Homo sapiens: one gene and its partner. The protein of the gene in region 1 purifies or fractionates together with the protein of each later gene. This does not show direct contact. Each region holds a gene or a part of one and is shown in the gene's direction. Other genes may lie near its edges.

Region 1 (6,063 bases):
CTGGCCTAGCTACCGAGTTACAGCTTCTGGTGTCTAGTCACAGGCAGTAAGGAAATGCTGGCTCATTTTTTTTTCCTCCCAGAAAAAAAGTCTTCAAACAGAATGACCTGGTGAACTTCCCAACTCCAGAATTCTGTGCAGTTATTTTCTAGTGACTGACACCGACTTCAGCCAGCTGTTTCTTTAGAAGTCTTCCCTATGGAGTAAAAATAAGAAATAACTTGTTTCCTGATAGCAGCAAGGAGAACAGAACACCACTTTACCTGACAGTGGAGAGCCCCAGACAGATACTCGCTTCCTGTTCATTCCCCTGCCATCGTACGGTAATGGGCACTGATATTAAACATGCATATTTCACAGTCTCTTGTCCCGCGATTTGGAGGATGGCCATTCACTATGTATGAACCACTCACTCATGCTCATCACACAGAGAAAATTACATTTTCCCAGTTGCCAAATGGAAGAGATAAATTATCTCACGTGGACAAGCACATTGCTCTCAAGAGCAGCTTCCAGACCTAAGATAAACAGATTAAAAAAAAAAAACAAAAACACGCTGGAGGGGGACTCTGAGCTTTCCAGGTGTTGATGGGGGTCAGTCTCTTCATTCGGACTCGCCAGATCCTCACTTTGCAGTTAGTGGGCTTAAAGTGGCGGGACATTTGCCCTTCTGTTTCTTTTGGATTAAATGAGCAGCCTTGGGGCCTCTTATTCTTCCTTCATAGAAGAGATGTTATAAAAATGAATAAATCAACACAAAACATTTCATATTTATGCCTACTTGCTGAATTGATACTACTTGTAATGAAAATCAAGGAAGCAAAATGTTAAAATGTTCTCTTTGGGGAAGACACATTGGAATGTCTTACCACAGATATACACACACTCGCTTGTTACACACTCCTTCCTTATCCCTAACTATTCTCTGAGGTTAATGAAGGTCCTGATAACTGCAGTCTCTAACTTAGCATATCATCCTAAACCTACTACCTGCACACATAGGAGTCGCAGCGCAACTATGTACTAATGGCAGCCAACACTCATTACCCTTCATACCACCATCACTGTGCAAACCCTTAGTGCATTTTCCAATATGATCCCACAATCCTTCATTTTTATGTTTTGCCCACGCTAAAATTCGACAGCGAATTCTTGCAACAATTATTAAGCGTCTGGAATTGTATTAGGGTCTGGGGGTAGAGGTGGGGGACGAAGCGGGAATAACTGCAGTACACAGCAGACCCTATGAAAGTGCCAAAACGCAGGTCTCACTCGGAAGGCTTTGGGAGTTGGGAGAGGAGAAGGCTCATGGGCAGCTAAAGCCACCAGTGACCTCATTATGCAATATTTAGGTTATCAGACTTTTCTATGCCTAGAAAAGCAGCGCCTCAACCATTCCAACGGGACGCACCGCGTTCAGTGACGACCCTCATCGGTGCCCACAGCTCTGGGCTCGCTGAAGGCACCACAGAAGCACCAGTTATTACCAGTGTTAGGGTCCAGTGGCTTCTTCTGTCCCTTTCCTCTGGATCCCAAAGTGTTGGTTCTCTTTTGTTAGTTTTATTCCGGTCATGCCAATGAGCACAGATTCACAGCCCAGGCGGCCCGCTCGGAATCCCAGGCCGGCTGGGGACCGGTGCACTTGGGCTCCGCGCCCCCTCGACCCTCGGCCCAGTGCCCCTTCCCGCGCGCGCGGGTCTCCCCGGTTCCAGAGCCCACCGGTCCCCGCCGGCTCCTTCTCCCCACCCACCCTCCCACCGGGCCCCCGGCGGCTGCAGCCGCGCGGGGCTGGCGGGGCGGCGACCGGGCTCAGGCAGATCCCCGCTTCCCGCCTTCTCGGCGCCCCCTCCCTCCCGGACGGAGCCCGAGGATCCCCCACCCACGGCGGGCGTGAGGAAGGGCTTCTGAGTGACTGGAGCTCTACCGCGTGTGCCCCGGGAAGGCCAGGCTACCCGGGACGGGGCTCGGCTCCCCAGGTGAGCTCGTCTCCGCGGGACTGGGTCCGGGAAGGCCCCAGGACCGCGCGGCTGAGCGGCCTGGAGGCTGCGGGAGGGCAGAGCAGGGCGCGCGGGAGACTGCCGCCCCCGGGCGCCCAGGGCCCGGCTCCCCAGCGCCACCGCCGCAGCAGGTGGGGGCCCAGTGGGCGGGGGCGGGGCCCGGCTCTGGGCGGAGCCGAGGCGGCGGCGGCGCAGGCTGGGGCCGGGGCCGGGGCGGGAGCCGGAGCCCGAGCTGGAGCAGCGAGCCGGGCTGTCGGGGCGACCGCGGGAGCTCGCCGTGCGCCGTGGCTGGGACCGGCCTGGCCGAGCGCGCCGGCGCCGCGGCCGCAGACAAAGGGCGGCTCGCGCCCGGGCCGCCACGCTCTCGGGCTCTGCCTCGGTAAGTGGCTCCCCTCCGCTGGCTTTCTCCTCCCGCCGCCTGCGCCTCTCGGAGTTCGGCGGGCTCCGGAGAAGCGGGGAAGAGATGAGACTTCCCCGCCCGCACTGCCTCCCCACCTTACCCTAACAATAAGCCCCCCAGGCCAAGCCACTGCCAAACTAGCGAGTTTCCGAGCGGCGGGGGTCTCCCGCGGGACCCGCCCGGCTGCCCTGGGTGAGCTCCTCGCCTGCAGACCGCGCGCCGGTGCTGTCCTGGACCCGTTTGGGATGGGAGGTTGCCGCTGGGCTCCTCGCGTTGTGTTTAGGGGAGGAGGACGCAGGGGCCGGGCGCCGCTAGGGGACCCCACCCCCGGGGACAGTCCGGAGCGCTTGGGGTCGCCGAGGGGCAGTTCACACTGCGAGTTCAGATTCGGATCGCAGTCCCGATTATCCTCCCCTCCAGCCTCTCCCTTTCTCGTTGAAGGGTTAATACAGCGTCCTCTCCCCTCGCCACCCGACAGAGGCGCCTACACTGGCGGTAGGTAGCCCCTGGGAGAGGGGGAGTGGGGGGACCCCGCCGCTTTCGCCGCTGGGCGACCCAGAGCCCCAGCCTGCCGGAGAGGGCAGCGGCTCGGGTTTGACATCCCAGCTGGGTCCCGGGCCGGCTCCCTGAGCCTCCTCCCGGGTTGCTCTCTATCAGGAAAGCAATCGGAAGTCAGGCCGGCTTTTGCTTTTGTTCTGCCAGCTACTCTACGGAATCGTAGGTGAAGCCGGGGTGGGCGGATGCCCCGGGAGGGGGCTGTGGCGGGAGTTCCAGGTGCGTCCCCGAAATGACCATTGGAGGCGGCGGCTGTTTCCCGCCCCTGGGTGGGGAATGGATTCCGATCGCTAATCGATACCCTGGAGCCAGCAGTGGGTCAGCAGCGTCCCGACAGAGCGCAGCGGCCGCGTACTGTCACGCGCCTCTCCAGCACTCTCGAAAGCACTACCTCGAGACGTGCATTTCCATTCATGGATCTGTGCCTGGGGGTTGATTAATGTCACCCCTGCCTGGGTTGAGGAGTGTCCACAACTGCTCAGTAGCCATTTACTGGGAGGTTACTGTGTGCAAGGCAGCTATCTTAAATAACCTTAATGTAAAATATACTTATTGAGCACCTACTATGTGAAAAGCAGGTATACTGCAGACTTTTCAATTGAATGGATATGTATTGAGCACCTACCCCGTGCGAAGGTGAAGCGTCATGACGTTCTCAATGTAACAGATATTTATTGAGTACCTACTATGTTCAAGATAGCTATGCTATGACCTTATTGTAATATGTATTTACTGAGCACCTACTAAATACTAAAGGCTTTTTTGCTGAAGGGTTGCCCAGTGTACTTTTGGGGTACGGATAGAAACAAGGGAGAGAAAATATAATATCTTCTGAACCTCGAGTCTTCAACTCCTTTAGTGACCTGCGTTTTAACCTTTCCAAACCGCTTGTGTGGTGTATGAAGGGCTAGTCTTCTACACTTGAGGGTACACTTCTATGCTTGAGGGTTTGTCAGACAGGAGCAGGGCTGAATAGTAAAAAGGCTTGCTCTGGAACCTCTTTCCAATTCAGTTTCCTTGCATTAGAAAAGTCAGCCTCTTTGCATAAAGCACCATGGAGTTATCACAGGGAATCAAAGGGCAATAAGGCAAAGCCCTAATGCTCAAAGGGACAGAGAATCCATGCTGGAGACAGACAAAAAGACACCTCCCTTTTAATGCTACTGTCATACCGTGCTTAAACAGCTATTGTGGGAATACTCAGTGCTTTAAACTAAATAACAAAGCAACCTTGGATCATCTGATCCAGAAGTTCTAGACAACTGACCTAACTCCTAGAATTCTGCTTTTGAGCAGTGAGGGATTAATTGTAATTTTTCTTCATGTCAGAAATTAATTGCATGTATTTTTCAATTACTAAAAAAAAGCAAACAAATAGAAATTAGTGATTTGTATTAATCCAGAACCTAATCTGCTTTAACTCAATTACTCCAGATGCGTGAATCTCCTGTTGGGTTGGTTGCAAGTTGACTCAAATTCGTTGTTTCACTTTTGCTGCAGGTTAAAAGTCTGCCTCTTACAAACCCTGGCTATATCACCCTCTTGTTTCTAACTAAACAAGATTTTCTCAAATAAACTTCATTCTGCATTTTGGCCAATAAAAAAAAAAAAAAAAAAGACACCTCCTAAACAAGGAAGGAACCAATAGGGGAAGGGAGAGGGAAGCATGAAGACAGGGCCAGCTGAACCTTCCAGCCCCTCACTCCAAACTGATACCAGTGATGTTGGGGTGAGAGAGTCTAAGTCCCATCATTGCCCATGGCTGGGGCCCTAGGACTGGAATTAAATAGTTTTCCTGCTAAGAGATTTGATGAATCTGTTACTCTGATAATCTTAGGATCTTGAGATGCACTGGAATATCCAGATTGGCGAGAAAATCATATCCATTAGCAAATATTTGAGTATTTACAATGCAATATAGGCATTTATCAGGGAAATGTAGTCTAAGACGTAGTCTTTGTCTTAAAGAACTCTGGTTCATGAGATAAACATGTAAAATGACAACTTGGGCAGCATATATGAAAAGCCAGGAGCAAATTCCTCCTGGAATTTGACATAAAAAATATTCTCACCACATGGAACTGTGGTTTTTCTCTTATCAGACATTGAGAACTCTCTACGTGCCTTGTATGTTTATCTTTTTGCCTTGGCCTCTAGAAATTCCTGGTAATGGCTTTATCCCAGCTTCTTGGTACAATGATTTTTTTCTCCCTAAATTATTTCTGAGACCTCTCTTTTAAATTCTTTATAAAAAACTATATTACAGGATTTTTGTTGTGAACTTGAAAGCCTCTCTGAAATCTTTTCTGTAAGTAAGCCCGTTATGAAAGATACATAGAAAATATGGTAAGTATTAGATGAATGTGCTCATAAGAAAAGGGGGAAAAACTATCCGGAATTTACAGAGAAAACAAACGGGCTTTGCAAGATGAAATAGGATTCAGATGGGCAAAGACAACTAACAAAGACTTTCCTCCCAAATTGAGGGAAATAGCGTTGGCAAAGGTGTCAAGGAAAACAAACCGAATTTAGAGTACTTTAGGTATTTGATAGATCTTCCTCTGGAATAGTTTCCATTCACTCAACACACGAGTGCTGCTGGAACATTTTACTGTGTCAAGGACTAGGCTAGGTGTCAGGTGGGGGGCATCACCCAGAACCAATTGAGGTTCAGCATGATCCCACAGCTGTCAAGGACCTTTGTCTCCTGTCCTGGCTGTGGGGTAGCACTGCCCTGCATCTCAGCCATTCTTTCAAGCATTCCTGGAGTTTTTTCACCTGAGCTGAACTTGACTGTAATCTTCTTCAAGGCCAAGAATGTGACTTTTTTTTCTCTCTGCATCCCTCCCTCCTTGCAGGTTCAGGCAGAAAGAGTCGGTAGGGTAGGTGACACTTATTTCAGTGACCTCTATTGCCCATTTCGTCACTCCTTCCTGGCCTCATCAGGGCCTGCTATGCTCTCTTCCTCTCCATCATTTTCAGCTGTTGAGAGCCTTTCACTGTATGCAAACTGGTCTCAGGGGAAAACCAATCTGTCATCGGTCACTTTCTCTTAAATATGAATGTAGGTCACTGTGTTCTCTCTTCCAGGGGTCTTTGCACTTTAAGCCT
Region 2 (2,678 bases), on another chromosome or scaffold:
TCAGACACTTAGGAGTTATTAGTGCTAAAAAGGGGACCGTGCAAGGCAGCAGAGTTACATGGTTCTTCAAATCATGTCTGAACCTATTCTTGGAATCTTCTCTATAATAAGGGAAGTTCTCTTACCCCACTGCCACATACCTCTGTTTTAAAAGATAAGTCCACTAACTGTGAGTAAAAATGATATATATAGGCATTAACCACACACTTTAATGGGTATAATTTCCTGGCTGCCTCCCTTCCTCAGCCCATTAGGTTAAACACCAAAGAAAGACTGGTGTGTACTGAATAGGAAAGGGAAGTTTTATTTGGAACCTTCTAAGAGGAAATCAACCAGGACCAAAGAGCCTTAAAGGACACACAGCAATGCACAGCCACTTCCCTTCCCCAGCTTGGCTGCCCTAGGTGATTTCTCAAGCTCCTTGGGGGACTGTTGTTTCTCATCTGGAATCAATGTGTGTATGAGTTTTGTCTGGTAGGATTGCTGACTCTGTCCAACAGATATCACTGTGAATTGAATAAATTTGTTGAAAGAGCACACAGGCACACATACACACAAACTGTAAACTAAGTTAATGAAGCCTGAATGGAAAGCAGGATCTGGCCTTACTTTGGCCTTGGCATGTCAGAAGGTATCACAACTACTATATAAGGGGAACTTGTCTGATGCCTGGAGGCTGTTGTTTATTTCCCTCATTAAAGGGGAAATCCACCTGTCTCCACAGGAAGCTCCAGATCTCCCAGAATGGGAGCTGTGTTGCCCTAGAGCAAGAGTTGGCAAGCTATGGCTCAAGGGGCCAAATCCACCTGCCACCTGTTTTTGTGCAATTGGAAGCTAAGAATGTTTTTACATTTTTAAAGAGTTGTAAAAGGGAACAACAGGAATGACAGAGACCCTACCTATGTGGCATACAAAGCCTAAAATATTTACTGTCTGATCCTTGACACAAAAAGTTTCCCCTGCCCTGGAGCAGTGGTTCTTAAGCACATGCATCAACCGGGCGCAGTGGCTCATGCCTGTAATCCCCACACTTTGGGAGGCCGAGGCAGGTGGATCACCTGAGGTCAGGAGTTCGAGACCAGCCTGATCAACATGGTGAAACCCGATCTCTACTAAAAATACAAAAAATTTGCTGGGTGTGGTGGCATACACCTGTAATCCCAGCTACTCGGGGGGCTGAGACTGGAGAATCACTTGAACCTGGGAGGTGGAGGTTGTGGTGAGCCAAGATTGCGCCACTGCACTCCAACCTGGGCGACTCCGTCTCAAAAAAAAAAAAGAAAACACATCAGAATTAGCTGGCAGGCTTGTTAAAGCACAGATTGCAGGATCCATTGCCAGATTCTGTCACTCTGGGCTGGAGCCTGAGAACGTGCATTTCTAGTCATTGCCCGGTGATGCTGATTCTGTTGGTCTTGGCACCATACGTGGAGGAGCACTGCTCTAAGGGGAAAGGGCCTCCTCCCCGAGGCCAAGGAATTCACTGCAACTTGATTTTTCTCCCCGTTTAAAAAAGTTAAAATATAACTCACATACCATAAACTTAGTCCTTTTAAAGTGTACAATTCAGTGGTTTTTAATGTAGTCACAAAGTTGTACAAGCATCACCACTAATTCCAGAATTATTTTGAGACAGGATCTCACTCTGTTACCCTGGTTGGAGTGCAGTAGTGCAATCACTGCTCATTGCAGCCTCAACCTCCTGAGCTCAAGTAATCCTCCTGCCTCAGCCTCTGGGGTAGCTGGGACCACAGGCTAATTTGATTTTTTTGATGAGGTCTCACTATGTTGCCCCAGGCTGGTCTCGAACTCATGGCCTCAAGTGATCCTCCTCCCTCAGCCTTCCAAAGTGTTGGAATTACACACATGAGCCACTGCATCTGGTCTCAGAACATTTTTCTTAGCCCCAAAAGAAACCCCATACCCATTGGCAGTCACTCCACATTCTCCCTACCTGCCAGCGCCTCACAATTCACTTCCTGTCTTTAGAGATTTGCGTATTCTGAACATTTCATGTAAGTGGAGTAATGCAGTATGTGGCCCTCTGTGTCTGGTTTCTTTCCTTAGGATAATGTTTTCAAGGTTCATCCATGTTGTAGCATATGCAATTTGATTTTAGCTGGTGTCTGAACAGAAAAGTCTGTCTTTGAGCTAGCTTCTTTAGGACAGGAGACCTGGCTTTATTTCCAAAAGCAAATAGGAAAAGGGAAACATTACCAGAGCCAGTAGAGCTTGGAAACAACTCCTGACTGATGTTCTTTCAGAACATACAATGTTTCCCCTTCCTTCTCAGCTCCTCAAGCCTCTTGGATTTCCTGTTCTCTTATAGACAACTGCTCTTTTGGAAATGTCTGGAAGGTATGTGGTGGCTATAATGTTCAGGGACATTCTAAAAAGTGGTCACTCAAACTGCATCTCAGTCTCATTTTGTAACATCTCTCTTCTTTGAGTTGGCTGCTGTGGGATGTTGAATAAGAGGCAGTTAAGGTTACTAAAAGGCCTTGGTGTGGGAAGTGCTAATCCAGACTGTCCTATCCAATAGCTCAGCTTGAGCTTTCAGGTAAAAGGAGAAAGGGAAGTTGGGGCAAAATCCCCTGTGTTTGCCAAACTGAATTGGGGTTTCTTATTTATTGAGAGAAAGAGGGTATCACTTTCTTGCCCAGGCTGGAGTGCAATGG

The links. The genes of interacting proteins can lie anywhere in the genome.
Region 2: the proteins of MAPK4 (region 1) and SFXN2 purify together in Homo sapiens (affinity purification with mass spectrometry, with the first as the bait; one large-scale study listed by BioGRID). This does not show direct contact.

The regions. Positions count from the first base shown.
Region 1 is NC_000018.10:50,557,868-50,563,930, forward strand, and holds the start of MAPK4 (mitogen-activated protein kinase 4), read left to right. Parts: upstream 1-2,219; 5' UTR 2,220-2,376; intron 2,377-2,394; exon of another isoform or gene 2,395-2,892; intron 2,893-6,063. UniProt on the Homo sapiens protein: Atypical MAPK protein. Phosphorylates microtubule-associated protein 2 (MAP2) and MAPKAPK5.
Region 2 is NC_000010.11:102,738,636-102,741,313, forward strand, and holds part of SFXN2 (sideroflexin-2), read left to right. Parts: 3' UTR 1-2,678. UniProt on the Homo sapiens protein: Mitochondrial amino-acid transporter that mediates transport of serine into mitochondria. Involved in mitochondrial iron homeostasis by regulating heme biosynthesis.